Regions from separate parts of the Homo sapiens genome. Here region 1 is linked to region 2. Evidence: fine-mapped expression QTL. A gene starts in region 2. The other region holds a variant in brackets. All regions are shown on one strand. Distances are between the middles of the regions.

What was found.
Region 1: its variant is fine-mapped to the expression of HMGN3 in whole blood (INTERVAL, PIP above 0.99).

What each region holds. Positions count from the first base shown.
Region 1 is chr6:79,270,882-79,281,075 of GRCh38, reverse strand. No RefSeq gene overlaps it. Among named protein-coding and RNA genes, the nearest start is that of LCAL1, 37 kb to the left of the region's middle. The variant A/C (reference allele first, on the strand shown) is at 4,546.
Region 2 is chr6:79,229,355-79,239,548 of GRCh38, reverse strand. It overlaps HMGN3 (high mobility group nucleosomal binding domain 3), which reads left to right and starts at 4,867. Exons shown (of 7, transcript NM_001201363.2): 1 at 4,867-5,003. The coding sequence starts at 4,989. HMGN3-AS1 (HMGN3 antisense RNA 1) reads right to left here and starts at 5,875. Exons shown (of 2, transcript NR_040671.1): 1 at 5,622-5,875; 2 at 2,749-5,487. RefSeq lists enhancers at 4,749-5,538, 5,539-6,329, 9,347-9,847 and a silencer at 5,542-5,591.

The DNA of each region.
Region 1 (10,194 bases), 42 kb before region 2:
TCCGATTTAATTGGTACAGAGAATGACTAGAGCAGGAGTTACAAAAATTCCCCAGGTGATTATACTGTGTAGTTAAGTTCAAGAACCACTGTTCTGGATACTATGCTTCAATTAAATCATTACAAACTCATCTCTTTTTGGCAGCCAATTCATGCTGTTGACTCATATTAAGTTAATTATCAACTAATTCCTGTAATTTTTTCTTTCTGCAGTTAATGACTAAGTCACATTAACTCCAACCTGTACTTGTGCCACTGAAAATTTCATCTTTTAAAAATTTTATTTTATTAGATAGAGTCTATGGCTCTAGCTAGTCAAGATCTAGCAAGTCAAGACCTCATCATATCTAATTCTTTTATCTAGTGTATTTTCTATTCCTCTCAGCTTCACTTCATCCAAACTTTTAAAGAGCCTGTCTTTTACCTATGGCATTGATTGAAATGGCAGATACAATAAAGGGTCTTGCTTCTCTCCTATAGGGTCCTCCCTGCAGGATGACACTAGGCATTTAGATATGCTAATTCAACTAGCTCCAATTTGTCTAATTGCCCTTTAATCCAGACCATATTTATTCATTTTTTTCATAAGTAATTTATGGGAAATGAGTCCTCTTCCTGACAGTTCCTTCTTGGTCTCCTTTGTAATTTACTCCTCTTCTTCTCATTGCTGGAAAATTTTGGTCTCTTGATGGTTCCACTTGGATCCATGCTTTTTAATCCATATGCTTTTCTACTTATTTTTAACCACTACTTGTACCCTGATGTACAAGTACTTGGCCCCATTTCCCCCCTAAGTTTCAGGACCATATATAACTTCTTTCTGGAAATCTCCAAATAGATTACCTACAGGTTCCTCTCTTCAACATGTTCAGAACCGAATTCTTCATCTTTACCATGCCCAAACCTGGTTCTCCTTCTGCCTTTCCCATATCAGCAATTGATGACATCACTTGTCTAGGCCAGAAATCTATGGGTTACTCTAGATTTATCATATTCTTGCATCACTAAGTCTAATCAGTTGCTAATTTTTGCCTATCTTACATCCTATATTTCTCGAATGTGCTCCTCCTTTCAACCCATACTAACACTGCCCCAGTCCAGGCACTAACCTCTTTTTGATTGGTTTCTATTAGTAACCCCTGAGCCAGGCTCCCTGTTTCTTCTTTTGTCTCACATCATTGCCAAATGGGCTCATTTAAGTTGCAAATCTGACAGTTTTACTCCAGCAATTAAAATACTTCAGTATATTGAAATACTTTGCTTCTATAATAAAGTTCAAATTCATCAGCATGGCAAAAACATTCCTTCTTTGAACCCGGCCTCAACCTGCAGCTCCTGCCATTTCCCACTTTGCACTTTATAATAATGTCACACTGAATTTTATTCTCCCACTAAACATGTTATCTTGTGCCATGAGCCACTGCTGAAGTGGATCTCTCTGCTTGGAATCTTGCTTCATCTCAGACCTAATTCTTGCTTGTTCTTTAGTCTTTAGTACTCATCTTGCACTTTGTCTTCTTCATGTCTAACCCCATCAAGTCAGTTTGGCCAGAAACTCTCTGGCCGTCTATCCTTGATGTTTCCTCTTAGTAATTTTCTACCCACTGATCCCACTGTATTCCTTTGCTATAAATCCCAGATTTAGTAAACGTCCCCCTCAGAGCTCTTGCACCATTCTGGACACACTCCTCTCATAGCAAGTACTACTTTATTTGGAATTATCCCCTTATGTATGTGGCTCCTGTTCCACACAATTTTTCATCTTTATATTCCGAATGCTTGTTATATAGTAAATACTCAAGAAATGGTGGTTGAATTTTTAGTGAAGACCAGATGCTCAGTGTGAATAACATTTCCCTGTTCTGTCTGGAAAGTCTGACCAAAAAGAAATTATTGTTTCATTGGACGTAACTGTTCCTAGCAAACTCAAGTCCTAGTGCCCAGTGCTTTTTCTACCTAGAATCAAAGTTTTCTATAAAGCAATACATAAGAAGTAAATATTTAGAATTTTGTAGGCCATATGATAATCTTCTCAACTCTGCTATTGTGGCATGAAAGCAGACATAGACAATGCATAAATAAATTGGCATGGCTTCCTTGGAATGTAACTTTATTAACAAGAATAAGCAATGGGTTGCATTTGGCCTGTGGGCCATAGTTTGCCCAATCCTAATCTAGAAGCTTCCAAACAAACTTTTAAAAAATCCACTATTTCTCTCCCACAGGAGGTCTACATGCTACTACCATATCTCTCATAATCCCTGCTATACTCCAGCAATTTTTGCAAGTGCAGTCAGTACTCTCTCTCTGGCTGTGGAGAGTATCCATGGGCTCGACATCTGAGGATTCAACCAACCTTGCATTAAAAAATACCTGGTAAAAATGGATGGTTGTGTTTACTGAACATGCACAGACATTTTTTCTTGTCATTATTTCCTAAATAATAGAGTGTAACAATTATTTGCATAGCATTTATGTTGTATTAGATATTACAAGTAATCAGGAGATGATTTAAAGTATATGAGAATATGTGCATAGGTTATATACAAATACTACACCATTTTATATAAGGGACTTGAGCATCCAAGGATTTTGGTATCCTCTGGGAGTTCTGAAACCAATACACTGTGCATACCAAGGGACGACTGCACTCAACACCAACATCAATGGATGGCAGAAATTTACCATCAGTACCATTAAGAGTGTGAGATGAAAACATGCTCATGTGTTGTTGGGGAAAACAGAGATTGACCTCATCAAGAGGTTAGAGGATTCACTGAGCATGAAGTGATATGTGTGATCATCATCATGCCAAACCCAGGCCAGTACAAGATCCCAGATTGGTTCTTAAACAGACAGAAGGACGTGAAGGATGGAAATTACAGCTGAGTCCTGGCCAAAGGTCTGGACAACAAGCTCTGTGAAGATCTGCAGCAAATAAAGAAGATTCTTCCCCACCAGAGACCATGCCACTTTTTCTTTCTTTCTTTTCTTCTTTCTTTTTTTTCTTCTTTCTCTATCTCTCTCTCTCCCTTTTTCTCTTTCTCTCTTTCTCTCCTTCTCTTTCTTTCTTTCTTCCTTTCCTTCCTTCCTTCCTTCTTTCTTTCTTTCCTTCCTTCCTACCTTTCTTTCTTTCTTTCTTTCTTCTTTTCTTTCTTTCTTTCTTTCTTTCTTTCTTTCTTTCTTTCTTTCTTTCTTTCTTTCTTTCTTTCCTTCTTCAAGACGTAGGATCTCACTATTGTCCAGGCTGTATTGCAGTGGTGGGATCATAGCTTGCTACAGGCTACAACTCCTAGGACTCAAACAAACCTCCCTCCTCATCCTCCTGAGTAGCTGGGACTACAAGTGTGTGTCATTATGCCTGGCTAATTTTTGTATTTTTTTGTAGAAACAGGGTTTTACCATGTTGCCTAGACAGGTCTTGAACTCCTGGGTTCAAGCGATCCTCCCACCTTGGCCCCCCAAAGTGCTGGGATTACAGGCATGAATGACTGCATCCAGCCAAGACATGATACTTCAGCTTTCATGTCCAAGACTAAGCATACTGAGGCCACTGGCCTCTATGGCCACATCATGTTTGTGTCCCAGAAGAAATAAATCTATAAGCCTTGTCTATCAATAAATAGTTTATATACCTTTAAATATCCAACATCTAGTCACTGATGTTTATTATGCAAAATCTCCCACTTCTTCAAAATGGGAACAGTATTTAACCATGCCCAGTTTCCTGCCACTTCTACCACCCTTTACAGTTCTACATTCTTTCCAGATTAGATCAGCAATGCAATTTGAACATCTTCCACAGAACACTGGGATGCAAGTTATCAGAGTTGGGAAACTATTTAGAATATAATTATGTTCTCCCACTTTGGGCTTCTCTTTCTCTTGCTAAGGAGTCTCTCCTTCCCTCCTACTCCTCTCCCTACTCTCCTCTGCAAAAAGACACAAGTAAAACTGAGGTTGAGGAGCTTGGTTTTTTCTAAGTAATCTTTCAGTAATAGATCACTGCTGACTAAACTACACCCAGTAGGCTGCTGCATCTTTGTTTCTCTTTGTTAAATACACTTTAAAAGTTTTATTTATTGTTCCTCGAATTTTTGCAAACCTGAACATATTTCTATCTCTAAGTTTATGCCACCCCTATTTACTTGCTTTTGGTCCTGTTTCCTTTCTTCATATAACACTCTTTATCCTGTAAGAGGACAGTTTCCTTCGCTGCAGTGGGACCACAGACTATAGAGAATTAGGACCTGGAAACAGAATGTGCAGTTATAGGGGAAAGTATCCAGCTGTGGCTGATGAGGAAGCAAGCCAGCTCATCAGACTTCACTATCTATTAGAATGTGAAGCTTCATGAAGGCAAGGGGTTTTTGTTGTCATTGTTGTTGGTTTTGTCTATTTTATTCACTGTTATATTTCCAGGTCCCAGAACAATGCCTGGCATGCAATAAATATTTGTTGAATGAATGAAAAATGGTTATCAATAGGCAGGGCAACATCCACGTGAAAGGTAAGCCAAAAAAGAGTATTCACCACTACATGACCA[A/C]GTAGGCAGTGCCCAATTATGGGGGATCCAGGACAGGCTACAAGCAGACAGCACTAGAAAAGTCTGCCAGCAGTTAGCAAGGCTTCAGCACTGCTGACATGTTAGGAAAAAAAAGAAAGACTGAGGTTAAGAAGGGTTCAGGCCCAGAGGCCATGGCCAAACCCAATTTTTAGAAGTAGGCCTTATTCCTGAGGCTAGCAGCAAGGCTGTCTTGATGCTGATTTCCAAGTACGCAAAAGCCCCCTAAATTCCTCCTGTCTAACCTGTCTTCTGATTCTAACCTAAAGATTTGAAATGCCATTTCCCAAAAATCTATCAGTCATAGTTTTTCTTTAGAATCAAAAGACGAACTAAAGGCTTTTTGAGAAATTTCTCTGTAATCCTTCCTTTGTGTCCAAGCAGAGCCCCCACACAGTAAAGCACAAAACTGGATTCAAAGATTTAGCTAGCAGCCATGGTAACTAGGGTCCCTGTAGAGTGACCCATGGGTAGTGATGTTTCAGAGCCCTGGGGAGCAGACCAAGTAGGACCTGATTATTTTTTAGAGCGAAACTCTAATTGGCCTATATTTCCTAAGTTTTGCATTTGCTAAGTAAATTTTTAGAGGGTGAGGGTATGTAGAATATAAATATTAAAAACAAAGAATAAAAGAGTTTTTACAGGCAAAGTAACTAGTCAGGTGTCACATTTTCTTGCAATTGACAAACACCACTTCTTGCTTGGAAGGCTGCATCTTTAGTTCCTAACTCAATGCCTGGTAGGAGACAATAAAATGTATTGAATGGGTGAATAAATGAATGAAATAGCTAGTCAATTAAGTTCATTTCACCATGTTTTGTCTATTCCAATTTTTTGTGTCAGAATTGATGATTTGAATGTAACTCAAAGTCTTGAGAGGTGCCTCATTGCTTATTTGACTCAAGGGATCAATCAGTGATAGGGTCCCCTGCTTAAGGAACAACAGAATGCTGCTAAGAGGTCAGGTACAAATATGATGTTCCATTGACTTACAAAGTCATTTTTCTCTACTATATTTTTTAAAGGCCTTGAGTAAAAATCCTTGAAAGAGCTCTTTAAAAAGACTGTGTCATGTACCAATCATATGGCAGTTGAGGTACTTTCAGTGTAGAAAATAGTGAAAATAAACAAAGATTTAAAAATCTACTACAAATTACATAATACTTTTCATCTATAACTTTTAAATCAAAACACAAAAACATTTGTAAAAAAGTAATACACATATGTAAGAGACATACTTATGTTATGATTAAGATCGTAGACTTTGAGATTAAATGACCTGGATTTGAAGACCAGTTTATCCATTTCCTGGTCTCATGATCTTCAGCAATTTGCTTAACCTCTCTGAGACTGAGTTGCCTCACCTGTAAAATGGGGGTCATAATTACACCTACCTCATAGCATTTTTATGAGGATTAAATGAGATAATGTGTGCAAAGGGCTTAGTACAGTACAGAGTATAAGTACAGTAACTATTAACATTTATTCAGCTTATTAACATACATACTTTATGTAAATATTAATTCACTTGTTCTTGCAGTAATTTGGTGACTTCTCAGGCATCTGAAACACACAGATTGAAAAACACTGCTGGATTCAGTAGGAACTGGGACAAAGGGTATCTTCAGAAAGAATAATGGAGACCTGTGTTGTTGCTGAAGGAGATGGAGCTTGGGACTTGGAAGACTGGCAGAGCTGCTTCTCCTTAGGAGCTCTGGCTGCTACTGGAGCAGCCCCAGGAAGGCTCTGTCACTAGGAACAAGAGCTACCACTAACTGAGTTAGTCCCTGGGAGCTGGACACTGCTGCTGACAAGTACTGCCAAGATGGTCCGTGGTGGTCTGCCTCTGGGACCCTGCTGACTACACACAACAATTGAGGCTTACAAAAGAGGAACTAAGAAAATCCAAAGATTTGGAAGTGTCTGACCCTTTCTTCCCTTTATGGCTTCTCACTTGCACAGAAGAATTTCAGCCCAACTCTCCATGCAACATCCAATAGGGGACAAAATACTATGCTCTATCATTACACCCTCATTGAGGAGGGTCAATAATCATTTCTCACCAAGAAAGTAGGAGGTCAGAAAGTGGATGAGGAATCAACCTAGTTTAGAGGATTGATCTAGAATCTTGTCCTCAGGCTTCTAGGGAATTATCTGAGTCTTTTATCTAAGACAAATGCAACAGTTTTCTTTCCAAATGCTCAGAAAAATAGTGATGATGATGATGATGATGATGTTCATTTGTATACATTTACATGCAACCACAGCATTGTTTTTATTATAATACCTTAGCAATAACTAATGAGAACATGTTAGGTGATGTTAAATAAAATAATTTTTTCCCAAAGACTGAGAACAGAGTTTCTTGGTTCGAATCCCAGGTCTACCACCAAGTAGCTTTTCTCGAGGCTCAATTTTGTCATCTAAAAATGAAGTGGTAGAAGCAGAGGTTCTCGAGGTCACTTTCAGCTCTTCTAGCATTATCTAACTAGACCACCCTTCAATAAGGTGATGGATAAGAAAGTCAAGGTTTGCCCTCCCTGTTACTCCTTTTATGCCTTTGAAATCTTTCCTTATTTCACCTGGTTGTGTTTCTTCCTTGACAACTTTCAACTAACAGTACCCAACACCAAGCCTTCTTTCTCTCTCAATTCTGGCAATTTACTAAGGTTTTTAAATTCTGGCACAAAATTCCATTCCCAAAGTATTACAGAGGCCATATTCTCAGATAGGTTGCAATCCATCAGAGAATTGAGCTTCACTTAGCCCAATTACTTTCTAGACTAAAACTAGATATTACACTTTTGCAGTTCTGTCCTTGTAATAATCGCCAGTTTTCCTACAAAACTATTAGCCCATATGCAACCATTTCCTCCTTCTGATGGAGAAAGTTTGTCTTATTTCCAAAAAATGACCATTTGCACAGCAATTATACATTTTTTCCAGTTCATTTTTATCTGACTTTCTTTATTTAAAAAAATTCCTTAAAACTTCTACTTTGGAATTTTTTGCAGACATTTCAGTCCTTTCATTTCTTTCTTTCTAGATTCAATACCAATGTCTAGAAAAATGGGAATGGCAAGATATTGGTTGTTCCCTGTCTCACCCCAAAGTAGCCATGCACATCAAAATCATACAACAAAGCTAACCTTAGGAGGGATATACAAGTTTCCCTTAAAAAATAAAAAGAATTGTCAATTAGAAGTGAATTAAATATGTTTATAATGGAGCCAGAAGTTATGGTTAAGACAAATGGATTGAAGGTAAAGTCAAAATTTTTTAAGTATAAGGAATATTTACATTAATCATTATACCTTTATGCCTGAAGAGCTATTTTATAGGCTCTTTAAGCATAAAGAGATTGGATTTGAATTCAATGACCTTCCAAATTGAGGGTTTTTTAATGCTACTCCAGAATCATTTAAAAGTGGTGTTAGCTTTCTGTTCATGTTTGGTGAACTTTTTAAATCCAATAGCTTGATTTTACAGTGTAACGTAGAAAAGGCTTTCTGGTTTAAGAGTCTAAGCCTCTAGGAAATAAGATAGTATTTAAATGAACTTTTAAACCAAATAAAAAGTAGGCATTTAGGCTATGTGATTTAATCTTAATATTATATGTCAACATGAACATACAGCTTGTGATATTTAAAGTAAATATTGTTTTGTTCACATGTTGCTTGAGAAATTGAAATGAGTTGAGGTTTAGCCCCAGATGTGATTTTGTATAAGGTACATTGTTCAGCAACACAGAGACCTGATTAAACTGCCTGGAGCTGTCCACATGTGGGCTAAGAGGACAAGTTCTTGAGAGTTTCTTATTTCAAAAACAATGCTATAAAAAATCAGATTCTCAGAGATGTACCCTTAAAATGATAGATTGCTTTAAAAAGGTTCTTCAATTAATCTATACCATTTTGGGGTCCTGTTTATACAAGTTAATACATCTCCTAGACATTAAAATAGTAGACTGACCTCACTAATATGTAAATCATATAAATTTTAAAATACAAAAAACTACATAAACATTAAATTAAAGAAAAGCATCAAGAGTCCATATTCCCATCACTTCCTCCAAGAACCTGGTGTTTGTCAGGCTGCTATAAAAAAGCATCATAGAATAGATGGCTTATAAATAACAGAAACTTATTTCTCGCAGTTCTGGAGGCTGGAGGTCTGAGATCAGGATGCCAGCATGGTCCGGCTTTGGTGCAGATCCTCTTCCAAGTTGCAGACTGCCAAGTTTCTTGTTTTATCCTCACATACTGAAGAGCAGAGAGGGGAGGCAAGCTCTTTCAGGACCCTGATAAGGGCAGTAATCTCATTCATAGGGTCCCTACCCTTATAACCTCATCTAATCCTAATTACCTCCCAAAGGCCCCAACTCCTAATACCATCATATTTGGGAAGCAGGGTGTTAACATATGAATTTTGGGGGAACACAAACATTCAGTGCATAATAAAGCTCAAGTGATCACCCAAAGCCCTCATGGAATTGATAACACTCAATTTTTCTGAAATTCATAAATAGCAGTTTATATGAAATGGAAATATGAGTGGCAGGTGAATGATTTAAATTAGTTGCTCAGAGTACATTTTTCCAGTTGGAAGAAAATCATCATAGGATTGGATATAGGTTTTAGGGAGATGCGATGTGATCTTTTAAGTTGATAACCAAAGAAAACAAAAAAGAATAGATGTTGAAGTTTGAAGATCCCCTAAGAATTGCAGAAGGGGGATCAGCTAAGTGATGAGCCAGGAGCGCCGACACAGGAAGCTCTGATGCAGGTGATGCTCCTGTAATGCAACTTGCAAGAGAAGGTGGGAGTGACCCTAAAAGAAGTATTCCGATAGGTCACAGATAGCCAATGGCCCAAGACTTTTCAAAACCTGGAAGACTCATAAGCATAAGGTAAAGATAACATAAGATAAATGTTAAGTCTTCCTGAGGCTATAAAATCAAAACAAAGTGGTAACAGTTGAGGTTAGTAAGCAATGCTACAACTTACACCTCACTTTTATCATTCCTTTGAATCTTAAACTAAAAAATGATAACTTCTTTAAATGGTTTTGTGGGTATTAAATGAAATAATGTATGTAAAAGACCAGGACCTGATAACTACTCAAGTGTCAGTTCACTTCATACTCTCTTTCCTGGCTTCTCAGGGCTTGAAAGTAGATCTTATTTAAATGACGAAAAAGAGTTTAGAGTTGAACTAGAGCCTACTAGACTAGCTGCTTGAAGCTTGTGTCAAAGTGTGCTATTCAAGTGGAAAAGTTGCTGGATTTTCCTTTACAATACCAAGAATGTATTTACATTTGCTCTCTCTCCTTCCTTAATTTTCATGGCTCTAAGCTGGCTAATGAATGTCACCAGTGATCTCCTCCTTTCCAAATTCAACATATACTTTGGAGTGCTGTGCAGCATTGGACACTTCTTGGTGCTCACTCTTGCCTCCATTTCTGTTGCTTTCCTGGTTTACTTCTACCTCCTTCCATCTTCCTCTTCTTGTTTTCTCCATTAAATGCCAATACTCCCCAGAGCTCTTCAGTCATTTTAATTGTACCCTCATGACTCTCTCCAAACTCCTTAACTTCAACTACAACCTATAGATACTTTTTTTTTTTTTTTTG
Region 2 (10,194 bases):
TTAACTTTCTCACCTCCTTGAGCCTGGATGGCTCTTGGCACCAGCCATGCTAACAATCTGACAAAAAGGAATGGCTAAACCAATGTATCCCAATCCCTGGTTCTAGCTACTGAGCATATCTAATTCATTCCCAAATAGTCATTTGGGTGCTAAAAAGAGCAAATTAATCACACTCCTGTGAGTTTAAGCAGCAGGAGCAAGAAGGAGAGGTAAATATCACAGAGATTGAACCTGAAAAGTACCAGGGGTGGAAAAACTGTGTAAAACATACCTGGGGTAAAGAATCTGCACAAATATTAAATTTGATTGAAGGTTGGGAAAACAAAGAGTGGGTTCCTTGGAAGGTCACAGAATGCCCTGGTTCCTCTTGCTGTTAATGCAGTTGTGAAGTATGCTTATGCAATCATTGACATTTAGCCTTGAAAGGGTGTGGCTTATGGGCTTTGGCCAAGGTAAGTTCCCTTTGAGGATTTGGGATCAGGGATTTTCATCTCCCAGGGGCCCAAGGAGCTGCCTAGAGGGGCTGCCTGGGAAGAAGAAGACACTTTTCTAGGTATCTGGATGTGTGCAGTTTTTAATCACTCTTCAGGTTCCTTGCAACTACAGAAGAGAAAGAAAGTGAAATAAACAGGTTGTGCCCAGCAAAACTGAGATGGAGCAAAAGCATGAGGTGAGGACTGTGGGGCGAGTTTCACCCACAGAATTACGCTCCTGCTCTGGAAGTATGTTGAGAACTCCACAGGCTTTTATAGATACCTGTCATCAGAATCCAAGTACCGGCATTCAGCAAATATTTGTTGAGAGCAAGGGCCTAGTCTATTAAATACTCTAGTCCCCGAATTATAGTGTAAGCAACACATGAAAAGCTTGTTTGAAAATGCAGATTTCCAAGCCTAGCCATTCAATACCTTGGGACTGGGGCCTAGGGATCTGCACTAATATCAGGCAGCTCATTTGATTTGGGACCGTTAGTTCTTGGACTCTTATTGTTGCTTTGTAAAAACTAACCTTGGTCTCTTCAAAAGTTAGCACCCAATCAAAGTAGAGACTTGACTGGAAAATACAAACAAAATATTCTTTTGCCACCTCTTATTTGTTGTTTTTGATGTTGTTTTGTTACACACCTGAATTCTTCACTGTGTATTTTTTGACCTATTTATGGAAGATTAGTAACTTAATCTGGAATTACAAACTATCAGAAGCAACACAGTATCATTTTCACTTTTCCCCTTTCTTCCTTTCTCCCTCTGTCTGTCTCTCTCTCTCTCTCTCTCTGTGTGTGTGTGTGTGTGTGTGTGTGTCTGTCTGCCAATGTCTCTGTCTCTTTCTTTGCCTTAATGATAGTCATGACTATCATTTGTTTTGCCCTGCTGTCTGAAAAATGCAAAGTAGGTGTACAGTTGCAACTATCAAAAGCAACAATATGTACATTCTGGATCTGACTTCTCCAGTAATTTGTCATTACTTACAGCAAAAGCCTAAGGGACCCTGCCTGTGTCTGCCTGAAAGAGGAAAAGAGGGACAGTTCAAGAAGGAGGTGATCTGCAAGTCATTCTTTCCCTTGAAAACTTCCTCTCAAGCCTGGTGTGGTGGCTTGCACCTATATAACTACTCAGGAGGCTGAGGCAGGAGGATCTCTTCAGCCCAGCAGTCTGACGTGCAGTGAGCTATGATTGTGCCACTGCATGCCAGCCTGGGCAACAGAATGAGATCTTACCTCTAAAAAAAAAATTTTAATATTAAGCATTTTTTTTTCGGAATGTCAAAGATCCACAACATTCATTAGCAGTGGCATTCAATTTTTTTGACCAAGACCATACTAAAAATATATTTCATGTCACAATCCAACATACACACATACATATCTGTGTTGTGTATGTGTTTATATGAGCACATATGGAAAATAGAAACAATTATCTTATGAAACATTACTTACCTTTACCATATATACTCTGCTATTTTCTATGCTTGGCCCTTTCTTTGCTTTTCTTAGCCTTCCCTTCTCCCTTCTCCCTCTCTCTCTCTCTCTCTCTGTGTGTGTGTTTGCGTGTGTGTGTCTGTCAATGTCTCTGTCTCTTTCTTTTCCTTAATGATAGTCATGACACTATAAATGGTTTTGCCCTGCTGATTGAAAAATGTGAAGTAGGTGTACAGTTCCAACAGTTTTGAGTAGGACAAAAGAGGAGAGGAGCTGGAATTGGAAAACAAGTTTGTTCACTATTTTTTTTCTTTCTGTCTCAGTCAGTAACTCTGTTAATTTATCCAGGTCTACCTTAGCTAAGATAGTATATACATCCTACTTTTACTGTCTTAGAGGCTGATATTCCAAAGTAGTAGAAATGCTCAGTGGAATATATTGATAAACAAATGAGTCTGTACTTCTTACCAGCTTGACCTCCTCACTGTCTTCTATGTGACACCCTCATTTCTGCCCAGATGTCTTTATCTCTTAACCTAGAATTCTAGCTACCTGCTAAATCATTCTCTTTGCCTACTCTTCTTACCTCCAGGGCCACCAGTAGAGGTTTGCACTGACTTTCCCAGATCTTGAAGGCTACTAAAGGTACAAGGGAGAACACTTCATTTCCTAGAGTAGTGCTCAGCCAGGTGCAATCTACATCAAAGGAAAGATAAGCAATGCTGTTGTTTTTCAACCGAAGCTGTTATTTTCATAACTTGTAAATGAACTAAAGATTCCAAGAACTCGAGGTCCTCACAATCAGCTTTCTTCATCCAACAAGCAAGCTTCAATTTCATCGTAGCATTTTTATTGTGTGCAGTAAAAACATTCACAATTTTGTTTGCTGTTGATGATCTGAGTGTTTGGTTTTGAAAAAAAATTAACAAAGAAGCCAATTTTGTGAGTTATTTTTCATCACAGAGGAGAAATATTCACCTTAGCACTACCTTTGTTGTGGCACCTTTCCATCTCCATGAAGAAAAATAGCCATCCAGTCCAGATTGCAAGTGCTACTCAGTATCCTTCTCACACATATCTTACTAAAAATGTTTTCACTGACTTTTTCTTTATTTAACTATCAAGTATTTGGCAAATTAATATCTTGAAAGACATCTTCATTATAAATATTATTTTAATGATAAAATTATTAACTTGTAAATTTTTATCTAGCTCTAAGCAATTGGTTTTTATCTTAATTCGTTTCAGTATACTATTGTCATTCACTGAATGCCCAAGAACAGGGAATCTATCAAAAATGATTAAGATCATGTCAAAAGGACACAAGCACTAATTTGAAAGGGTATGCATTGGCTAAAGATGTGGTAATAGGAGCATTAAAAAGGTAATAATAATGATAGCAATACACTGATGCACACCAAATATGTAAAAATCCATGAGTTCATAAAGATGTTCCAAAAAAGAAAGTAATCAACCACCTCTGGAGAGTACTAGATCAATTAATGTATTCTGAAAATTACTAAAGAAAAAGTGAAATATTAAACTTCATTGCTTTTTTAATACATATTTAATACATGATATTTTTAATACATATTTGCAGCCTCTGTGTTACCAAAGTGGATTTGGCCATATTTGTAATGTAAGGCTTCAACACATTTTCCTATGATGTGAGCTTTGCCTGCTAAGATGATTCTGAAACTAACTTTGCCCAATTTTGCTTTTTCTATAATTTCATATGAATGCAATCATTCAGTGTGGTCTTTTGTATTTGACTTCTTTCGTACAGCACTTTGTTTTTGATATTCATCCATGTAGGAAAATTTTTTATTGTTTTTTATTGCTGAATAGTATTCCACTGCATGTGCTCATCACAATTTGCTTACCCATTCACTAGCGCTTTTCCTGCATCTGCTGAAAGGATTGTTTTTCCCCCTTTATTCTATTAATCCTGCCAATTACATTGATTGATTCTCAGATATTAAAAAAGCAGCTTTGCATTCCCAAGATAAGCCCCACAGGTCATGATGTATTGTCCCTTTAAATGTTGTTGAGTTTCATTTACTAAAATTTTGTTCACGACTTTTGTGTCTATGTTTATGAGTGATATTGGTCTGTAACTCTCTTTTGAAGTCTTTCACTGGTTTTGGTATCAGAGTAAATCTGGTCTCATAAAATGAATTCAGAAATATTTTTGCAATGCTCATTTTATGCCTTGCAGAACTTTGAGAAATATTACGCATAAAGTGTAACATGACGGGTGTCATTCAAATATATGTCTCAAATATAAAATAATCAGTTTTTGCCTTGTTCTTTCTTTTCCTAATTTCCGTAACAAACATGTCCTATTCGTCTTCACATCTAGTTTGAAGTTAGCTGAATTAGTGAGTGATTTATAATCACAGATTTCAGAAAATTAGAGCTAAGTGATTTTAGGGACTGTTGTCACTATATATCTAGGGGGGGAAACTGAGGCCTTTAGAAGTTGCCACGCTCTTCCAGTACAGAGTACCTTCCCACGCTTTACAGATTCCCACCATGTAACATTCATTAAAAGCCTTTATGGGTAGGAAATGAATAAGGTACCTGCTGTGTATATATTTACATTATAAAGTTTACGTATTCATTCTTACTCTTTTTCCTTCCTATGAAGACACACACTGTTCTTATTCTTACAATCTCAAAGAGAGAGCAGCGAAACAATGAAACTTCAGGATTGTGTGGCCTGGAGGCTACTAGTTGAACTGGGCATGCTCAGTCGCCAGGCAGATTTTTTTCGGTGAAGTGGAAACTACAACAGCGCGTACCGCGCGCGGAGGTGGGCGTGCCCTCGTGGAATTTAGAACGTTGCCTCAGCCAATGGGGCCTCGCGGCCGGCTGGCGGGGCTCCTCATTGGAGCAGCAGGGAGGCGAGCAGAGGGCCCCCAGAGGGAGCCGCGGAGGTGCAGGTCGAAGAGGCCGGGCTACGTCGTGCCCTGCGCGTGAGCAGCTGCAGAGGCAGAGGCAGCATCCAGCGGCGGCGCCAGCAGTTCCAGTCCGTTGCTTTACTTTTTGCTTCACCGACATAGTCATTATGCCGAAGAGAAAGGTAAGTCTTACCAAAAAAAGATTTCAAAAGCCTTCAAATTCTGCTTACAGTAAATGCTGGCATTGCAATGGCTCGCGCAGAACGCGCGCGGTAGTAACCCGGGGATTGGGAATCTTTGCTCCTCCACGCTTGTTTTTAGATGCCTGTTGCAGACGTTCCTCTCTCTGTCCCCCCTACCCACTCCGTCCTCATCGATCTCTTAATGTTACTTTCTCTCCAGTGACGCGGTTTCCCTTCTTTTTGAACTCATTCTCGCTGGAATGTTTTCCACCCCCAACAACAAGAAGCAAAAGCGGCTTTCCATTCCGAAAGGGAGTTTCCTCTTTGCAAACTGCCAGGTTGCGAATTAGTGTGAAGGGAAAACAGCGAGAGGAGAAAAACAAGTACAAGCGTAAGGAGAGGGAAGAAAATAAATCAGGCAAATGTTGGGATTATTCCCATGCGGCTGTACTCGCGGGCTGGGTGCGCTGCGGTGGCTCCTAGGCTAAGGGAAAGAGAAAGCCATGTTTAAAATAGCGCTCACCCTCCTGCTCGCCTCCGCTGCAGACCCGTATGTACCAACTCCAGTGTCAATCAGGGCTGGGGCCGGCGAGGCGGGGCCTGGCGGCCTGGACCTACCCGCAGTTCGGGGCGGGAGCGGTGGAGTTGGCAGCGTGGAAGACGGGACGGCGCCGGGGCGTCCAATATGGCTCGTCCAAGGTCAGGGGGCCACCAGGTCCTCCCCAGCGACTGGAACCCACACTCGGTTGGGGAAGGCGGGGTCCGCGCGCTATCCGCCCCTCTGCGCGTCTAGCGAACTGGAGTCATTTTTGTCTTGTCTTCCGCCCCTTGCGGACTGTCCTCTTCTGCGCAGGCCCCGGACACCAACTACTACATTCAGGGACACAAATCTCCCTCGGGGTGGGGCTTCGACTTGTCCCGGGGAGGGAAGGGAAAGGTTTCCTCCTCCCTGAGAAATCAGTGAGGATTTCTCAGCTGGTTCCTAAGCAAGTGCTTTGCACCCTCCCACCGCCAGCCTCAGTGTTTCCAACAGTGTCAACGAGTGTGGGTATTAAATTTGAAGCAAAATTACACCTAATGTCTTGCTTTATCAAAGACCATGGACTAATTTGTGTGTGAGAGTGACTGCATTATTTTAAAATACTGAAGTTTTAAAAATTCAAAAGCTTTCCCCTTCTTATATGTTATTACTAAAAATTGGGTAGAAACTTGTCTCCTACCCCACTTTTTAAAAATAATTGAAAGTGTTTAAAAGTCTTAGAGTTTGTTGTGCACATACTGTGTCCCTCACGCTGTGCAGAATTTGACTTGCATTATCTCATTTAATCCTGAAAACAGCTTGAGCGGTGTTACCCCCATTCAGCTGGGACTTAAAGACATAAATTGTCCTGCATCTCACCAACCAATAACTACTAGTAAAGATTTAATCAGATGCTATAGATGCCAAAGTCTTATTCTCACCCATTTCGTACTCACTTACGAAAGGGTGGGTCAAGAGGAATTAAGGAAATCCAAAGGTACTCCCAGTTTAAGAAGACAGATGGCATATTAAGAGCACTAATACTTGAGATTTATTATTTAAACTTAATTTTATGAAGGTATTTTCTAGCCCTGTTTTACTAGAATTAGGATATTAAGTGATGTCACCATTTTCAGCATTTTGACTGAGGGTTAATGATGGATTGGAAATTCTAGTAGAGACAAAGGAACTAATCATCAAGATACGGGTTACAGAGTAAGTGAGCTGGAGGCCATCTTTTTTTCCTGGGAATTATAACCATTGTTTACATAAACAGTAGGTTAGGTGTGCACACTTTATGTATAATGGACCCTGACGATGGAACCCTTCCTTGCTGTTTATTCAAGGGCCAGAGCTGCTGAAACCATTATTCTTACTTCCCCTGTCTGCCTCTCTCAAGGAGACGGAAGGAAAAAAAAAAAAAACTAAAATAACAGTAAAATTACAGCTACAGTTTTATTTCCCTGGAAGGCAGGGAACCCCCATGCATAAGCTAGCCAATGGTCCTGAGACTAGGGGCAAAACTGTGTACAGGCACCTGTGTGTCATTCCTGAGGACATCAGAGTGTTCTCCGGTGATGGAAAACCTCTCCTTGATTAATAGGAAGGCTTTCCATTTATACCTGAAGCCTAACGACCTCAGTTGGTACCTGGGCAGGAACAACCTCAGATTAAACACGGCGATCATGGCCATCCATCTATCAGTCAAGTCTTAGAGCAGCCTCATGGAATCCTGAAGTTCACTGGAACTTATGTGAGGAACCACTGTCATTAGGTAAAGCCTGCTTAGATACAAAAAAGAACTGGAGACAATCCATGCATAGCTCTTCAAGATCTTCAAAGCTGGGGTAACTGCCAAAGCATTTACATACTACACAATATTTTTCTTGACTAAAGAATTGTCTGCTCTACAATATAATAAGCTTTTAAAATGTCCCCCTAGTACTTTTTTGCCTTCTTAGCCCCCTGTATCAACCTTTCCTAGAAATCAAGAAATGTTATTTAATGAACATCTGAGTAAGTTGTTCTGCAGAGCAAGAAGTGGTACAGATAAAGTCAATGAAAACATCTGGAATCCTAGCCCTGTTGTAATGCTGTAGGGACATACAGTTTTTGCCCTCTTGGAACTTGTGTTTAATTCAATGAGGTGATAAGACTAGCAGCACAAAACAGTTGAATAACATTAAAACTGTGTATGTGTTCCAGAATGTGTAGTTATAGATCCCACAAGCAGTAGGACAGATAAGGAAAGTTAACTTTAGGCTGGTCTTAAAAGTGTGGGTAGGACTCAAATATACAAAGAAGTCAGAGTCATTTTTTGTTACCAGGTATTCAAGTGTGTCTCCTGATTGTATCTTAACATGACCAGGCCTCAGTTTTGCAACTTCAGGGCTATAATATCATCTGAATTAATATTAAAATGTTCTGATGACATTTCTTTGTAAGTTTTATGTGTATCTTTGTGTGTGATAGTCATAACTACATTAAGCCAAGTGGTTTTTTATAAATGCCATAGTATTTTGTGAAGTAATACAGCACTTAGTGAAGAGTTCTTCAGTGCATATTATCTCTAAGTTTGTGAGATGTAAATAAAAGTGAGTTTCCTGTATTTTTTAGATAATGGATGGTGGGTGAGTGGAATTACAGGGGAAATGATAACATTCATGGACTCAGTGGTGAGACAATGAGTGATTGAGTTCTAGACTGTTCTGGCCAGACATCCACAAATGCCCGCAGTGGTCATGTTGTTATGTGATGATTTGATGTTCTACGAAGAGACATGAGCCAGCGAGGCCTAGAGTCACAGTCCTGGCATGATTAGCGACAGGAAACACATTTTTACCTCTTTCTTTTTATTAATATTTTCCAGTTCCTTATCACTAGAACTATTTTAAATGTCTAGTGTATCACATCAGAAATTCTCTAATGAGGCAATTTTCCATGAATGTGGCATGTAAGCAGTCATGTCTCTTGACACTTAAAGGTTTAAGGAAGGAAAGCCCATCTGCCTCTAGCTTTGAAACTCAAAATTAGGTTTTTATCTGTTTCCTTAAAATGGAAGGCCCAGTAGCAGTAGCATTGGGCTTATTAGCACAGGGGATGCTTAACTAACCATGATCAAGGTTTGTGATAGTTAATTTTGAAAAGAATATTACTTGTCATAACACCAAAAACAGAAACTGTAAATGAAAACACAGATAAATTTGGCTACATGAAAATGAATATTTCAATATGGGAAAAAAAACTGTTAACAAAATTTTTAAATTTATGAAAAACTGGGAAAAAATATTTGTACCACATATCACTGAAAAAGGTTTGCTGTTTTAAAAAGATAGCATCTCACATTTCCTTATGGAAAAGATGTATATCTTTATAGGAAAATAATGAAGACTCAAGTAGACAGAAATGTTTGGTTTTACTAGAAATCAAAGAAATGTACAATATTAAGAATAATGAGATGTAATTTTTAAAATAACCAATCTGGTTTAAAAAAAGATTAAAAACCTACTGGCTAGTGCTGAGGGATATAGACACTCAGCACTCTCAGTTATGAGAGTATAATTTCCTTTAAAACATTTATTGAGTATAATCTACTTACTATAAAGTCCATTCATCCATTCGAAGTATACAATTCAGTGATTTTTAGTAAAGTATAGAGTTGCGCAACCATTGTCATAATCCAGTTTTGTAACATTTCCATCATTCCACAAAGGTCCCTCATGGAGTTTATAGCCAATCCCCACTCCCAGCCTAGCCCTAGGCACTAATCTACTTTTGCTGTATCTAGATTTGCCTTTTCTGGAAATTTTATTTAAAAGAAATGATACAATATGTAGTCTTTTGTGACTGATTTTTTCACTCAGCATGATGTTTTTGAGATCAGTTTGTGTTGTAGCATATATCAGTACATCATTCTTTTTTATTGTCCAGTAGTGTTCCATTGTATGGATATACTCATTTTTGTTTATCCTTTCACAAGGTGATGGACATTTGGATTGTTCCAGGTTTGGATTATTATCAATAATGCTGCTGTGAATATTTGTAAATAAGTGATTGCATGGACATATATTTTCATTTCTCTTGGGAAGATTTCTAAGAGTAGAACTGGCAGGTGGTATGAAAGTCTATGTTTATCATTTTTTTTTTTGGAGGCGGAGTCTGGCTCAGTCGCCCAGGCTGGAGGGCAGTAGCGCGATCTCAGCTCACTGCAAGCTCCGCCTCCCGGGTTCACACCATTCTCCTGCCTCAGTCTCCCGAGTAGCTGGGACTACAGGCGCCCGCCACTACGCCCGGCTAATTTTTTTGTATTTTTAGTATACACGGGGTTTCACCGTGTTAGCCAGGATGGTCTTGATCTCCTGACCTCGTGATCCGCCCGTCTCGGCCTCCCAAAGTGCTGGGATTACAGGTGTGAGCCACGGCGCCCGGCCGTCTATGTTTAACGTTTTAAGGAACCTCCAAACTGTTTTCCAAAGTGCATGCGTTCTAATTTCAACATACTTGTTCATACTTGGTATTGTTGATTTTTTGCTTATAGAGATTCTTATGAATTTTAATTTATATTTCTGTAATAACTACTGACAATAAGCATCTTTTCACGTGTTTACTAGCATAATGTGTATCATATGTGAAATGTCTATTCAGATATTTTGCCCATTTTTAATTGGGTTG